Linked DNA regions of Homo sapiens: regions 1 and 3 are each linked to region 2. Evidence: fine-mapped expression QTL. A gene starts in region 2. Each other region holds a variant in brackets. All regions are shown on one strand. Distances are between the middles of the regions.

Region 1 (5,229 bases), 29 kb before region 2:
CTAATTTACCTTTCCACCAACAGTGTGTAAGTGTTCCCTAAAAACTAGTTTTTGAAGTCAACTGCCTAAGTATACTTCCTAGCTCTACCATCTGCTAGCTACATTATCTTGGTCAAATTACTTGAGCCACTCTGTGCCTCAGTTTCTTCATTGATAGAACAGGGTTAATAACAGCATCAAGATCACAGGGCTGTTGTGAGGGTTAAAGCAGATAATCTATATAGAAGCTGAATACACTGCCTGACACAAAAGCACTAGTTTACTGCTGGCTGTATTAGTTAATGTTTAGGCTAACTTGCTGAAATAACTGTTTTAAATAAGAAATGTTTATTTCTCCCCTGTAACAGTTGTGAAGATAGACATGAGTTCATCCAGGGACCCAGCTGGCCATGTCTCTACTTGCCTCTGCATTTAGATTCCATATCTGAGTAACAGGCAGTTGTCTTCAACCACATGGGGTTGAAGTAGCTCACCAGTACCCTGTCCATATTCCAGCCCTGAGTAAGGCAATGTGTGGAGAGTAGGCAAGTTCATTCTTGAGGTCATTAAAGCAGAAGAATGCTGATCACTTCCACTTATATCTCATTAACCAAAACCTAGTTCAAATGGCCACACTGATTTACAAGGGAAGCTGGGAAATGTCTCCAGCTGGGAAGTCATGTGCCCACCCATCATTTTGAGTGAAGAGGGGATCTATTATTTATTTTTATTTTTATTTTTATTGTTGAGATGGAGTTTCGCTCTTGTCGCCCAGGCTGGAGTGCAGTGGCGCGATCTCGGCTCACTGCAACCTTCGCCTCCTTGGTTCAAGCGATTCCCTGCGCCCAGCCAGGGATCTATTATTAAAAGGGAAAAAGGAGGCCTGCTCTAATGACCTCATTTTACTCTAATTACCTCTCTAAAGATCCTGTGTCCAAATACACTCACATTCTTGGGTATTTAAGGACTTCAATATATGAATTTTTGGGGAGACATAATTGGGCACACAGCATGGGTTAAAGAAAGTGGAAATTGTATCCTTTGACTTTTTTTTCTCCACCTTTCTGTGTAAGAAGGAAAGGATATCTTTTGGAAAAAAGATACGGAGAAGAAAATGCCCAGGAATGTGTAGAAGCAAGGATCCTGCATTGTTCTTCTGGTAAGAAGAAAATGAAGGGGATAAAATGGGTCTCTGGGGTACATTGCCTTTAGCTCCAGAAATGTAAATGGGCTCTTAGGCTCCTTCTGTTACAGGCTTACGTTCCTCATCCTAAAGACAAGAATGCCATTAGGGTTATTAGTAAAAGGATGTTTTCATTTTACATTTATGCCTGAACTTAATAAGTTTCCATTTTAAACCAAGAAATAAACTCAGTCAGCACTTTTATTTATTTTATTTTTATTTTTTGAGACAGAATCTTACTCTGTTGCCCAGGCTGCAGTACAGTGGTGTGATCTCGACTCACTGCAACCTCCTCCTCCCGAGTTCAAGTGATTCTCCTGCCTCAGCCTCCCAAGTAACTGGGATTACAGGCATGCACCACCAAGCCCGGCTAATTTTGTTTTTTTAGTAGAGACAGGGTTTCTCCATGTTGGTCAGTCTATTCTTGAACTCCCGACCTCAGGTGATCTGCTCGCCTTGGCCTCCCAAAGTGCTGGGATTATAGACGTGAGCCACTGCACCAGGCCATATTTCTTCTTTTTATTTTTATTTTTTTGAGACAGACTCTCACTTTATCGCCAGGCTGGAGTACAGTGGCTCGATCTCAGCTCACTGCAATCTCTGACTCCCTGGTTCAAGCGATTCTCCTTCCTAGGCCTCCTGAGTAGCTGGGATTACAGGCACGTGCCACCATGCCTGGCTAATTTTTGTGTTTTTAGTAGAGATGGCGTTTCACCACGTTGACCAGGATGGTCTTGATCTCCTGACCTCGTGATCCACCCACCTCGGCCTCCCAAAGTGCTGGGATTACAGCTGTGAGCCACCGTGCCCAGCCATTTTTTGGTATTTCTAGTAGAGACACGGTTTCACCAGGTTGGCCAGGCTGGTCTTGAACTCCTGACCTCAAGTGATCCACCTGCCTTGGCCTCCCAAAGTGCTGGGATTACAGATGTGAGCCACCACGCCCCGTCAGTCAGTATATATATAT[A/T]TTTTTTTAATCAAGGAAATTAACTGTGAGAATACAAGGATAAACAAACCAAGTAATGAATGTCTTCATCACTTTAGTTTTTGGTCATTAGCCAGCGTTTAATCTTTAATTATAAGTTGAGTTTCTGTTCCATGCAACTGAAAAAGATCTAACACAGGTGGAATAACTGAGGAAGACTTCATGGGAGCCATGGGATATAAAGCGGCAGGACAGAGGCAGAGTGTATGTCAAGGGGGAGGGCCTCCTTAGTTGTGACATAGGCATCATAATGAGCACAGTGAGAAGTCTGCCTTTGGATAATGACAATAATTTACACTGGCAGAGTTGTGTAGCAGGGGTCCCGATTTAAGTCTAAGCTCTGTTCCCTCTAGGACTCAGCCATGGGGGCGTCCATCTGGAACACTGGTGGAGTTAGTCCACCGGAGGATATATTCACATAAGGGACAAAATAGCCTTTTGGGAGTCAGAGCGCGTGCATTTGGTTTAAGGCAATGTGAAAAACCGTAAACAATCTCAGATTTCACCCAACTTACAAGCTAAAAAGTTCGCCTGGCACATGGATGCTGGCAGAAGATATCATAGTCCTGAGCCAGAATGAAGAGTTTCTTACTCACAGCAATAGCCATAGCAATAGCCAGAGTATCAGTTTTGTGGTTTGTTTTTGGCATTAGTTAGCAAAGTCCCAATTTCCATAGGGAGAGGCAAAGAAGGCCAGATGGCATCTGCCCTTGCAGTGGGCTGCTTTACAGAAGGGGAACCTTCAGCTTCAGGAGCCTGAATCTTTTATAGTGGCAATAAACTTGCTTGCCCTTTGCTCTGGAAAACCTTATTCCTATCCTCTAAGACTGTTTGCTCTACAAACATCCCTGAAGAGAGAGTCCTGAAAGAAGGGCAGTCAGTGCTTCACTCACCAGATGTGCAGAAATGCACAGAGATCATGAAGAATGATCTCTGCCTAGGCCAGTGTTTGAGTGAAAGGATAATTCCGAGGGTCTGTCCTGGTAACCTCTCACCCATTCTAGCTCATACAGATTCACACCAGAGTTCTAATTTAAGGGGGTTGTAATTTAAGGGGGCTGTGATAAAAAAGTAAAAACTAAAGGGACTGTTTCATTGAAATCCTGTTCCATCACTGAGAGTGCAAGAAATTAGTATCACTGGTATCATTTATTTTGACAAAGCTAATGAATGTGGCTTTGGTACCAAGAGGAGGCATTACCACATCTATAAGCACATTATCACAGTGGCCTGGACTGAAGAGGAGGAGAGTAGAAGATACCACCTCTTACTTAAAATGATACGTTCATGGATGCTTGTGATATTACAACATTAGCCTGAAGTTTAAGTTTCCAAGAAATAATTTTAAGTCTCTAAGGAATTTAGAATGATAAAGTTCCATCGGTACTTGATGACTTTTGGACTATCCTCAAAAAACCCAATCAAATTTCCATCAACGGTTAGTGATTTCTCAACTATCCCCAAATATCCCCAAATAATACTCTTTAATACAAATAGTATTAAAGGGCAGTTTCTTAATCTTTTTTCCACATTATCACAAAGAATGGATGATGTTTATCTGTATGATGTATTTCCATGGATGTACTCAAATTTGGGGAAAAAAGGAAAAAAAAAAAAACACCCTGCAACAATTTTATTAGTAAATGAAGAAAATAATACTACAAAATCATTTTGTTAAATATTCACTTAAGGCTGGGCATCATGGTGGCTCATGCCTATAAACCCAGCACTTTGGGAGGCCGAGGCAGGGGGATCACTTGAGCCCATGAGTTCGAGACTACCCTGGGCAACATAGTGAGACCCCATCTCTACAAAAATTAAAAATTAAAAAAATTATTCTGGTGTAATGGTAAGTGCTTGTAGTTCCAGCTACTAGGGAGGCTCAGGCGGGAGGATGCTTGAACCTGGGAAGTCTTGGCTGCAGTGAGCTCTGATAATGCCACTGCACTCCAGCCTGGGCAACAGAGTGAGACTGTTTCAAAAAAAGAAAAGCCTTGGGTCCAGTGGCTCACACCTATAATCCCAACTCTATGAGAGGCTAAGGTGGGAGGATCACTTAAGCCCAGGAGTTCAAGATCCGCCTAGGCAACAAGCGAGACACTGCCTCTATAAAACATAAAAAATTAGCTGGGCAGGCGTACACCTGCAGTCCCAGCTACTTGGGAAGCTGAAGTTGGGGGGGAGGATCACTTGAGCCCAGAAAGCTGTGGCTGCAGTGAGCTGTGTTCGCACCAATGCACTTCAACCAGGATGACAGAGTGAGACCCTGTCAAACAAAACAAAAAACAAAAAGAAAAACAAAAGATGTTCACTTAATGTTAAGAATTCAACAATAGTGAAATCAGTTATGTAAGAATTGCCAAAATGTAGCATATCTAATTTTTAAATATCATGATTTCTCCCCCAGCCTTTACTCACAACACCAATAAAACAAGTACACATTATTTGAAAAGGCATAAAATTTATTGTTAAAAACATAAAATTGGTAGATTCCCTCCATGTTATTGATATAAGGAATATTTTCACTTTCCTTTGAGAGTTTTCACTTGGCTATCATAACTGTTAGGACCCTACTAACAATGTTCAGAGACTACTGTTTTTGTGTACTGTAGATGTTGATGCACTCATTCACAATTTTCTCTTCTGTGGGTATGGGTGAAGTTTCCTTTATTTATTGATTTTTTTAGAGATGGGGGTCTTGCTTTGTTGCCCATGCTGGAGTGCAGTGGCATGATCATACCTCACTGCTGTCCCGAACTCCTGGGCTCAAGCAATCCTCCCGCCCCATGGGTGAAGTTTTAAAAAGTGAATTTGAAATACAAAAGTAATTCAAAATGGCCATAAAAGTAGGCTGTGGTTTATGTATAACTCCCTGCATGGAACTCCTTTCTCTCTCAGGAAATTATATTGGAATGCATGTGAGAAAGTGATTTCTAAAATGCCTCATAATGGTCTGTGTGGGTATACATACATATACACAGATAAATAATTCAAAACTTTGGTACCTTATTGTAGATGTTTGTTCCTTGAACATCTTGCATACCAAGATAAATTATTTTGGATCACCTAATATCAAAAAGTG
Region 2 (5,229 bases):
TCTCCCACCAATGCTAATTTTCTTGAAGACATCTGCTGCCAGTCAATTCCAATTAGAAAGTTTTCATGTTACATATTAAATACTGTTATTACTTTAAAAAATTTGAGGCACATAAAAATAAGTCCATAAACCAATATTAAATTTGACTCCAAAACATTCTTTTTTTTTTTTTTGAGATGGAGTCTTACTCTGTCACCCAGGCTGGAGTGCAGTGGCACGATCTCAGCTCACTGCAACCTCCACCTCCAGGGGTCAAGCGAGTCTTTTGTCTTAGCCTCCCGAGGAGCTGGGACTACAAGCACGCACCACCACGCCTGGCTAATTTTTTTTGTATTTTTAGTAGAGACGGGGTTGCACCATGTCAGTCAGGCTGGTTTCAAACTCCTGACCTCAGGTGATCCACCCATCACCGCCTCCTAAAGTCTTGGGATTACATGCGTGAGCCACCCACCACTCTTGGCCGAAAAAAAAAAAATTCTTAAAAATATTCTTAAAAAAATGAGTAAATAGGCACTGTCGCCCCGGGTGGAGTGCAATGGCACGAACTCAGCTTACTGCAACCTCTGCCTTACAGATTCAAGGGATTCTTCTGCCTCAGCCTCCAGAGTAGCTGGGACTACAGGCGCATGCCACTACGCCCAGCTAATTATGTATTTTTAGTAGAGGCAGGGTTTCACTATGTTGGCCAGGCTGGTCTCGAACTCCTGACATTGTGATCTGCCCGCCTTGGCCTCCCAAAGTGCTGGGATTACAGGTATGAGCCACCGCGCCCGGCCACATTCCTTATCTTTTAAGCTAAAACCCATCTCCCCAAATTGCTTATTTTCGAAGCAAAAATCAAAGCACATGCTTACAAAACATCGAACACGCAGTGTGCTTACTAAACGCTAAAATACAGAAACCTAAAAAAACAATTCTTGCTTTTCAAACATCCATAAATAATCGCCAACGAATTTTTCCTGGCAAGTCTACGTTATAATAATAATAATATTATTATTATTATTATTATTTTTTGAGACGGAGTCTTGCCCTGTCGCCCAAGCTGGAGTGCAGTGGCGCAGTCTCGGCTCACTGCAACCTCCGCCTCCTGGGTTCAAGCGATTCTCCTGCCCCAGCCTCCCCAGTAGCTGGGATTACAGGTGCGCGCTTCCATGCCCAGCTAATTTTTGCATTTTTAGTAGAGACGGGGTTTCACCATGTTGGTCAGGCTGGTCTCGAACTTCTGACCTCGTGATCCGCCCGCCCCGGTCTCCCAAAGTGCTGGGATTACAGGTGTGAGCCACCGCGCCCGGCTATAATAATTATTATAAAATTCAAATCTTAAGGCCGCACATGGTGGCTCACGCCTGTAATCCCAGCACTTTGGGAAGCGGAGGTGGGCCGCTCACCTGAGATCAGGAGTTCGAGTCCAGCCTGGCCAACATGGTGAAACCCCGTCTCTAATAAACACAAAAATTAGCCAAGCATGGTGCCGGACGCCTGTAGTCCCTGTTACTGGGGAGGCTGAGGCAGGAGAATCGCTTGAATCTGGGAGGCGGAGGTTGCGGTGAGCCGAGATCGCGCCACGGCACTCCAGCCTCGACAACAGAGCAAAACTCCGTCCCAATAAATAAATAAATAAATAAAATAAAAATCTTAAGGGTCTAGTCACAACAGTTCAAAAGTCTCCAAAGGGAGACTCTCACCTTCAAGCTTGTAAGTAATACTAAAGTTCTAGATTTGCTGGAAGTTATCTCCTTCAATGGATTACAGCACATGATCTAGCAATAATAACGTACCTTGTCACCACATCGAATGATTTTGAACACTTCCCATCAATCGACTACCGACTAACAAAAAGAAGGACTTGATTCCCGGCAATTTTTTCTCTTCTGAACTGAGCATTCCCGAAATCCAGCTTGCTGAACGCGCAGATGCAGGGTGAGAGGCACCCCAGGAAAAATGGAAGGGAAAGTGGTACAAGTTAAAACAGTCTTCGTGGCCGCAGAGACGATCGCTACCTCGGCCATGGCAGATCTGGGGGTCCGGGGCGGGGGTTCTTCCCTGATACCCACCGGGCACGCGAGTTCACGCCAGCGACAGTGGAAAGCCCTCCCCTCGCAGCGCGCTCCGCCACTAGCCGCACCCCGCCGAGCTCTGACCTCCGAAGAGGGTCCCTGTGGCGATCCCGCCCCTTCGTCTGATGTTTGTGCCTTTGATTGGCTCTTAGGTGGATCCCTCAGCGTGGCTTGCCCAATGGAGCAATGCCGGCTGGTGGCCTGGCCGCTCCGCCCCTTCCCTACCCCTCGCGGAGGGCCCGCCCCCTGCCCCGCGCCGGCTAGCGGAGGAGAGTAAATACAACAGGAGCGCAAAATGGCGGAACCGCCGAGCCCCGTGCACTGTGTCGCTGCCGCGGCCCCCACCGCCACCGTCTCGGAGAAAGAACCGTTTGGCAAGCTGCAACTCTCCTCCCGGGACCCTCCGGGTTCTCTGTCCGCCAAGAAGGTCCGGACTGAGGAGAAGAAGGCACCGCGGAGAGTGAACGGAGAAGGGGGCAGCGGCGGGAACAGCAGGCAGCTGCAGCCGCCGGCAGCACCTTCGCCTCAGAGCTATGGCAGCCCCGCGTCTTGGAGCTTTGCCCCTCTGTCTGCTGCTCCCTCCCCGTCCTCTTCTCGGAGCAGTTTCTCTTTCTCCGCTGGCACGGCCGTTCCCTCCTCAGCCTCCGCTTCCTTGTCTCAGCCGGTGCCGCGCAAACTGCTGGTCCCTCCTACGCTGCTGCACGCTCAGCCTCACCATCTCCTCCTGCCCGCCGCCGCCGCCGCTGCCTCGGCTAACGCCAAGTCGCGCAGACCTAAGGAGAAGCGGGAGAAGGAGAGGAGGAGGCACGGTCTCGGTGGGGCCCGAGAGGCCGGCGGGGCCTCCCGGGAGGAGAACGGGGAGGTGAAGCCGCTGCCCCGAGGTGGGTGCCGTGCGGGGAGGGGGAGGGGAGGGCGCCGTGGGTCCCCGCCGCCCCCTGGCGCCCACGGGGCCCGGGAAGGGGGAGCGCGGCGGCCGCGTGCGCCGGCCTGGAGGGGCTGGGAGGCGTCCGGTTTTCAGCAGAGGATTTTGCAGTTCCCAAGGGGACAGGAAATGGAGCCTGTAATTTCGGTTGCAGAGAGGGGGATGGCCGACACTCTTATTTTCTGTATCGTTTCTTCCTCCCAGTTAGTGCGCTGCAGGATTTGTGAAAATCCATCTTGAGGACTCTCCTAGGTTTGTTTGGCTAGGGAGAGAGATGGAGGGAACGGGATGGGGGAAGGGTTTGGTTTTGTAAAAGATGCTTGATTGATTGTTAGACCACTTAGACGTGGTCGCGGGAATTCGTATTTGTGACACAGCGTTCAACCCCGGATAATCCTGTCAAAAAAGGGGTGTGGAGAGAGCACTGGCGTCAGCTGGAAGCTACCAGAGGCCTGAGCTTTTCATCCCTATTAGGGAAATGAGGTAGCGTGCAGGGCCCGAAGTGCGCTGTTTCGTAAGGTACCCTCCCTGCACCCTACTCTCCGCTGCGTATTCTTAAGTGTTTTGGGTGGTCCTGTTTGAAATACCACCCTTCTGAAAGAATTTTCAGCCATATTCTTTTTTTCCCTGCAGCAAATGATAAAACCAGGAGCTTTGACGATTTTTCGCCAGATCAAGCGGCTGCAGAATGTTTGAGCATTAGAAAAAGGCGAATTCTTAAGGGTTCTTGTCAGACAGGGTCAGTTTTGTTTTTAAATGTAGGCTAGTCGTATAATTTTTCAGGTGTTTCCACCACTTCAGCTACGGATACACAATGATCTGACAATAGTGCAACATACGGACTAGTTGAAAATCAAATCTTTATGTGATCGCAAGCTTAAAGCGCATAATCTTTATTATAAATGTGCACTGCTACACAGTGTTGTCAAATAACTCTTTTTGTTTTTTAGAAAAAGAAATGTCAAGCAGTTTCAGCATTGCTGATCTAACAGTAGCTCAGATCATGAAAAATTCTGTTTGGATTATAATGGTTTGTTTTCACAACTTAAAACATGCTGCATGTGCATGTAGCAATAGTGTCACTTCTTCCTTGATATTTTTTGCCTGTAGCAAAGCTTTAACATCTAAGCATAGCCATCAGGGACTCTGGTGCAATGTAAATATCTTTCAGCTTCTGGGAGTGTTGTTTCTAGGAAAGTGGTTTTGAGGATGGGATTTTGGTACTTTTAGTCAGGAATTCCAGGTGATTAGTATTTTAAAGCTATTTTGTTTTAACAATTTATATGTAAAATTTAGGAGATAAGTGCCTGGAAGTTTGTCCATATGCAGCTTGGTATCATCACTAGTGTTTGTGGTGTGTAAACTGCACATTTGCTGTAAGTTCTCTGAAAGAGGAAGTGAATATGAGTATTACATAGTTGGAGTAATGGAATATTTGAGAAGAAATAAGTAAGCATTCTTTAACAATTCTAACTTAAAATGTGGAGTACACAAATGGTCCTTAAAGTGAAATGGCTGTTAAAGAGGAATTTTTATAGTCTTTTCAATTACATTTAGAATCCTTCTTCTTTTGAGGGTTAACACTAATATTATTAATCCTGAATATAAACAGTGATAGGTTTTACATTAAGATGTGGGAATGATCTTTTCCCATGACCTATGTGGGTTTTTTGGAGTAGTGACAAGATATTAACACTACTGTAAGATTTTCATTTTTTCAGACACAAATGCTATCTTGTTGAGGAAAAACTATCAGAGAAAAAGATTCCTTTCCAGTGTCTTGGTGGTAAATTTAATGGTGAAAATTTTTCCCTCGTAACTTGGGGAATACTTATATCTTTCTAAAGTTTGGATTTAACTGAATTGATGTTCTGTTTTAACGAATTAAGAAGATTCTTAAATAGCGGTATTAACAAGTGGTATAGCAAGAATACATATATGCCTTTATTATAGATATAATTGCAAATATGAAAGTCCTGATTTGCAATACAATGATCATTTCTCTGTGCTTTTTGTAAAAATCTTAGTGAATGGGTGACCAAGTGTTTGTTTAGGTATATACCTCTTTTTAGTGTTGCCCTAAGTTGGCTGTGCATGGTTCAGTAACCCCTCAATTATCCACAGCTGGCTGATTGAACAGTCTGAGTCAGAACCAGACATTAGCTATAAAGACACCTAAACAAGGAAGAGATTCTCCCTCAACAAAACAAAACTGAACCACACACACTCGAAAGACCTAGCCTGCACCCC
Region 3 (5,229 bases), 210 kb before region 2:
AGGATGGTTTCAAACTCCTGACCTCAGCTGATCCACCCGCCTTGGCCTCCCAAAGTGCTGGGATTACAGGCGTGAGCCATCGCTCCTGGCCCTGTGATTTCTTACAAAAGTGTTCTGTAGTTCTCCTTGTAGAGATCTTTCATCTCCTTGGTCGTATTCCCAGGTATTTTATTCTTTTGTGGATATTGTAAATGGGATTGTATTCTTGAGTTGGCTCTAATTTTTAACATAATTGTTGTGTAGAAATGCTACTGATTTTTGTACATTTAATCTTGTATCCTGAAACTTTACTAAAGCCATTTTCCAGTTCCAGGAGTCTTTTAGCAGAGTCTTTAGAGTTTTCTAGGTATAGAATCATATCGTCTGCAAAGAGAGATAGTTTGACTTTTTCTTTTCCTATCTGAATGTCTTTCTTTCTTTCTTTTGCCTGACTGCTCTGGCTAGTATTTCCAGTACTATGTTGAATAGGAGTGGTGAGAGTGGGGATTCTCGGTGAGAGTGGGTATCCTTGTCTTGTTCTCAAGGGGAATGCTTCCAGTTTTTGCCTGTTTAGCATGACGTTGGCTGTGGGTTTCTCAGAGATGGCTCATTACTTTAATGTATGTTCCTTTGATGCCTCTAGCCTGTTGAGGGTTTTTTAATCATGAAACGATGTTAGATTTTATCAAAAGCTTTTTCCAAGTCTAATGAGATGATTATACGGTTTTTGTTTTCAATTCTGTTTATGTGGTGAATCACATTTATTGATTTGCATATGTTGAGCTAACATTGCATCACAGGAATGAAGCCTCCTTGATCATGGTGAGTTAACTTTTTGATGTGCTATTGGATTTGGTTTGCTCGTATTTTGTTGAGGGTTTTTGCGTCTGTATTCATTAGGAATACTGGCCTGTCGTTGTCTTGTTTCCTTGCGTCTTTGCCAGGTTTGGTATCAGGGTGGTGCTGGCTTCATAGAATGTATTAGGAGGGAGTCCCTCCTCCTCAATTTTTTGGAATAGTTTCAGTAGAATTGATACCAGCCCTTCTTTGTACGTCTGGAGAATTCAGCTGTGAATCCATCTGGTCCTGGGCTTTTTTGATTGGTAGATTTTTTTATTACTGTTTCAATATTGGAATTCAATATTGGTCTGTTTGGGGTTTCAATTTCTTCCTGATTCAATCTTGGGAGTTTGTGCATTTCCAAGAATTTATCCATTTCTTCTAGGTTTTCTAGTTTACGTGTGTAGAGATGTGCACAGGAGTCTCTGAGGATCTTTTGTATTTCTTTGGAATCAGTTGTAATGGCACCTTTGTCGTTTCTGATTGTGCTTATTCTAAACTTATTTCTAAGCAGGGCTGAAAGGAGGCAATATTAGCCCCAACTACTAATATTATTCAGTAAAAAGCATTTTATTCCTTAATCAATAGGGGCTTACTCTAAAAAGTAAATACTTGGGGAGAAAAAAGTCTTTTTAAAATTATTCATAGTTAAATGGAAAATATTTAATTAGATAATCACTTTTCTCCACACTTAATAGCTAATAGTAGTTGTTTTGCTGGGGAATGTGAGGAAGAGGGCTACAATAAATTGGGAGTACTAAAATCTCCAGGAGTGGCCAGACTGAGCTGGGCATCAGAGGGGGATTACTGTCACTTAAAGGGCATGGTGGGCACATTACAATTTGTCCTGGTACTTCACATGGCAGTAGCCAATCCCTTGAGAGTTTGGTAAGGTTCCCTAGTAACTGAATTTTGTCTAGCTTGTCCCAGTGGCACAGCAAGCACAGCCAGGAGAAATGTGGTGGATTGTATATGGTAAACGCAAAGATGAACTTCCTGATTATAAGGATGAGAAACACTGGAACCAGCTCCTTAGAGAGAGGGAGTTTGTAGAATCTGTATCCTGGAAGAAGTGGCTCTCTCACAGGAAAAAGTTCTTTGATAGAAGGTAGCTTTGTGGAGTGTGTACACTTAACTGGACATGACTGAAGATAGTAGGGGAGGATGAGCTTTGCTTTGAATGAGAAGCAAAGGAGTTGCCCTTTTTTTTTTTTTTTTTTTTTTGAGACAGAGTTTTGCTCTTGTTGCCCAGGCTGGAGTGCAATGGTGCGACCTAGGCTCACCGCAACTTCCGCCTCCTGGGTTCAAGTGATTCTCCTGTCTCAGCCTCCTGAGTAGCTGGGATTACAGGCGCCCGCCACCATGCCCAGCTAATTTTGTATTTTTAGTAGAGACGGTTTCTCCATGTTGGTCAGGCTGGTCTCGAACTCCCGACCTCAGGTGATCTGCCCACCTCGGCCTCTCA[A/G]AGTGTTGGGATTACAGGCGTGAGCCACCGTGCCAGGCCAGGAGTTGTTAAAAATGAAATACCATGAGTAAAGTATTCATTTCTGTCCAAAGCAAAAAAAGACCCTATCACATTACAAATGATTTTTATTCTGCAAGAGATCTAGTAAACAGACCATCTAGAGAACCTTACAGTTCAGGCTTACAGATCTACTCATATTTCCTTTTAATGGGCAATTTCTTGTAATTGTTTTTGATAACAAAAGTACTTCCAACTGGAAACTGGTAAAGAACAGGCTAATTTGGGGGAACTGCATACTCCTAAAATACACCTTTATGATTTCTCTAAACTCCCATGTTGCCCTCAACAGTTTATAAGCATATGACAGGAAAATAGGGGAACTATGAGGAATGTGGGTGGGGAGCCCAGTATAGCACAAACACCTGGATCTTGTTCACTTCATTCACTGATCATTAGCCCACTGCCAGCAACATCCTTCTGTCCAGATATTATCACAGCATCCTCTTCTTTACTTACTAAAATGTGAATACCTACAACACACTCAACAAAGAATTCAATTGAACTAATACTTTCACATCTTATCCTCATTTGAAAGCACATTAATATTATTGTACTTCAGTTTCTACATATGTAAAATTGGTGTGCTGGAGGAGTTTGAACAAACTAGATGATCTATGAAGTCTCTTTCAATTCTAAGATTATAAGTTTCCTTTTTTTTATTATTTTTCAGACGGACTCTCACTCTGTCACCCAGGCTGGAGTGCAGTAGCACAATCTCGGCTCACTGCAACCTATGCCTCGCGGGTTCAAGCAGTTCTCTACCACAGCCTCCCGAATAGCTGGGATTACAAGTGCCCACCACCACGCGCGGCTAATTTTTGTGTTTTTAGTAGAGACGGGGTTTCACCATCTTGGCCAGGCTGGTCTTGAACTCCTGACCTTGTGATCCACCCGCCTCGGCCTCCCAAAGTGCTGGGATTACAGGCGTGAGCCACCGCGCCTGGCCAAGATTATAAGTTTCTGTAGTCTTTCCAGGCTGACAGTGCTGCTTTTGGACTATGGAGTTAGAACTGGCTCTGCCACTTTCTTAGTGAGCGACTTTGGGGAGGTTGCCTAATCCCCTTTGGAAACAGTTTCCTCATGTCATTGCTATCATTATCACGCCCACTTGGTGCACTTTGTTGGCCAAGTTACTTAACTTGAGATGCTGTGGATGGGATTAAGAATGCACAAAGGTTGGCCGGGCGCGGTAGCTCATACCTGTAATCCCAGCACTTTGGGAGGCCGAGACGGGCAGATCACGAGGTCAGGAGATCGAGACCATCCTGGCTAACACGATGAAACCCCGTTTCTACTAAAAATACAAAAAATTAGCTGGGCGTTGTGGCGGGTGCCTGTAGTCCCAGCTACTCCGGAGGCTGAGGCAGGAGAATGGCGTGAACCCGGGAGGCAGAGCTTGCAGTGAGCCGAGATTGCGCCACTGCACTTCAGCCTGGGCAACAGAGCAAGACTCCGTCTCAAAACACACACACACACACACACACACACACACACACACACACACACACACACACACACAAAGGTTGAGCATCCCTAATTTGAAATCCAAAATTCTCCAAAGTCTGATACACCTGACCCCAAGTGATGGATCACAGTAAAAATGCAGGCATACAACACAGAGTTTATTCAATGTCTCCAAGGGAAAAAAGACCCTTCCACCCCAGTTCAGCTGCAATATATATTTTCTGTGCATGACCAAATTCCTCCATGAAAGCACACCCATAAAACGTAATAAAATAGCACATGTGCAGACTGGATGTGCCAACAGCCGGTTCCCCAAAATGCCCTACATGTAGTAAAGACCTACATGCATTGCTCCTTGTGTTTTCTTGTTTATTTTCTACCCTGTGGTGTAAAGATGTTGCTGAAAAAATGTTCAAAAGGCCTGCAGATACCAACAAAAGAGGAAGCATTTATGTTTATAGGATAGCACAGAAAGTCAAGCTGTTGGAGAAACTGGACAGTGGTGCGAATGTGAAACATCTTAATAGAAGAGTATGGTGTCAGAATGACCACCATATATGACCTGAAACAATAGAAGGATAAACAGTTGGAGTTCTATGCTAAAAATAATGAATAAAAATTAGTAAAAACAGAAAAACACTGCATAAAACTAAAAATAATGGTCTTGATCATGTATTGAAAAATTGGATCGGTCAGCGATGCAGTGAACACTTGCCACTTAATGTCATGCTGATAATGAAATGAGCAAAGACTTATGATGAACTGGAAATTGAAGGGAACTGTGAATATTCAATATATCTGGCTGCATACATTTAAGACACAACATTATTTTTTTTACAATTTGAGGTGATAAAGCATCTGCTGATCATAAAGCAGCAATGATTGATGAGCGTGCCCAAGTTATCACTGATGAAAATCTGACACCAGAACAAGTCTATAATGCTTATAAAACATCACTGTTTTGTGTTACTGCCCCAGGAAGACACTGACTACAGCTGATGAGAAAGCCCCTATAGGAATTAAGGATGCCAAGGACAGAATAACTGTACTGGGATATGCTAATGCAGCACACAAACACATTGTAAACTTGCTGTGACAGGCAAAAGCTTATGTCTTCACTATTTTAAGGGAGTGGATTTCTTACCAGACTATTATTATGCTAACAAAAGTGCACAGATCACCAGGGACATATTTTCTGATTGGTGCTCCAATGTTTTGTACCAGAAGTTCATGCTCACTGCAGGGAAGCTAAACTGGAGGATGACTGCAAGATTTTGTTACACGTGACAACTGTTCTATTCACCCTCCTGCTGAAATTCTCATCAAAAATGTTTATGCCATCTACTTTCCCCAAAATGTGACTTTATTAATTCAACCATGTGGCCAGGGTATCCTTAGATCAATGAAGAGTAAATATAAAA

Direction of the effects. Alleles are on the strand shown, and positions count from the first base shown. SD is a standard deviation of normalised expression in the study named. Not every link is listed here.
With allele A in place of T in region 1, the expression in amygdala of the gene that starts at base 2,148 in region 2 is higher (large effect, 0.86 SD a copy in GTEx).

What was found. PIP is the estimated chance that this variant, and not a neighbour inherited with it, causes the effect.
Region 1: its variant is the best candidate, but not a certain one, in a credible set for the expression of APTR in amygdala (GTEx, PIP 0.75).
Region 3: its variant is the best candidate, but not a certain one, in a credible set for the expression of APTR in whole blood (TOPMed, PIP 0.88).

What each region holds. Positions count from the first base shown.
Region 1 is chr7:77,664,931-77,670,159 of GRCh38, forward strand. The region is part of intron 1 of APTR (Alu-mediated CDKN1A/p21 transcriptional regulator); the gene reads right to left. Among named protein-coding and RNA genes, the nearest start is that of APTR, 29 kb to the right of the region's middle. The variant A/T (reference allele first, on the strand shown) is at 2,130.
Region 2 is chr7:77,694,118-77,699,346 of GRCh38, forward strand. It overlaps APTR (Alu-mediated CDKN1A/p21 transcriptional regulator), which reads right to left and starts at 2,148. Exons shown (of 2, transcript NR_134254.1): 1 at 1,779-2,148. RSBN1L (round spermatid basic protein 1 like) reads left to right here and starts at 2,342. Exons shown (of 8, transcript NM_198467.3): 1 at 2,342-2,938. The coding sequence starts at 2,353. RefSeq lists enhancers at 1,437-2,332, 2,333-3,228, 2,413-2,642 and silencers at 2,163-2,382, 2,853-3,172, 3,463-3,562.
Region 3 is chr7:77,484,233-77,489,461 of GRCh38, forward strand. No RefSeq gene overlaps it. Among named protein-coding and RNA genes, the nearest start is that of PTPN12, 50 kb to the right of the region's middle. The variant A/G (reference allele first, on the strand shown) is at 2,285.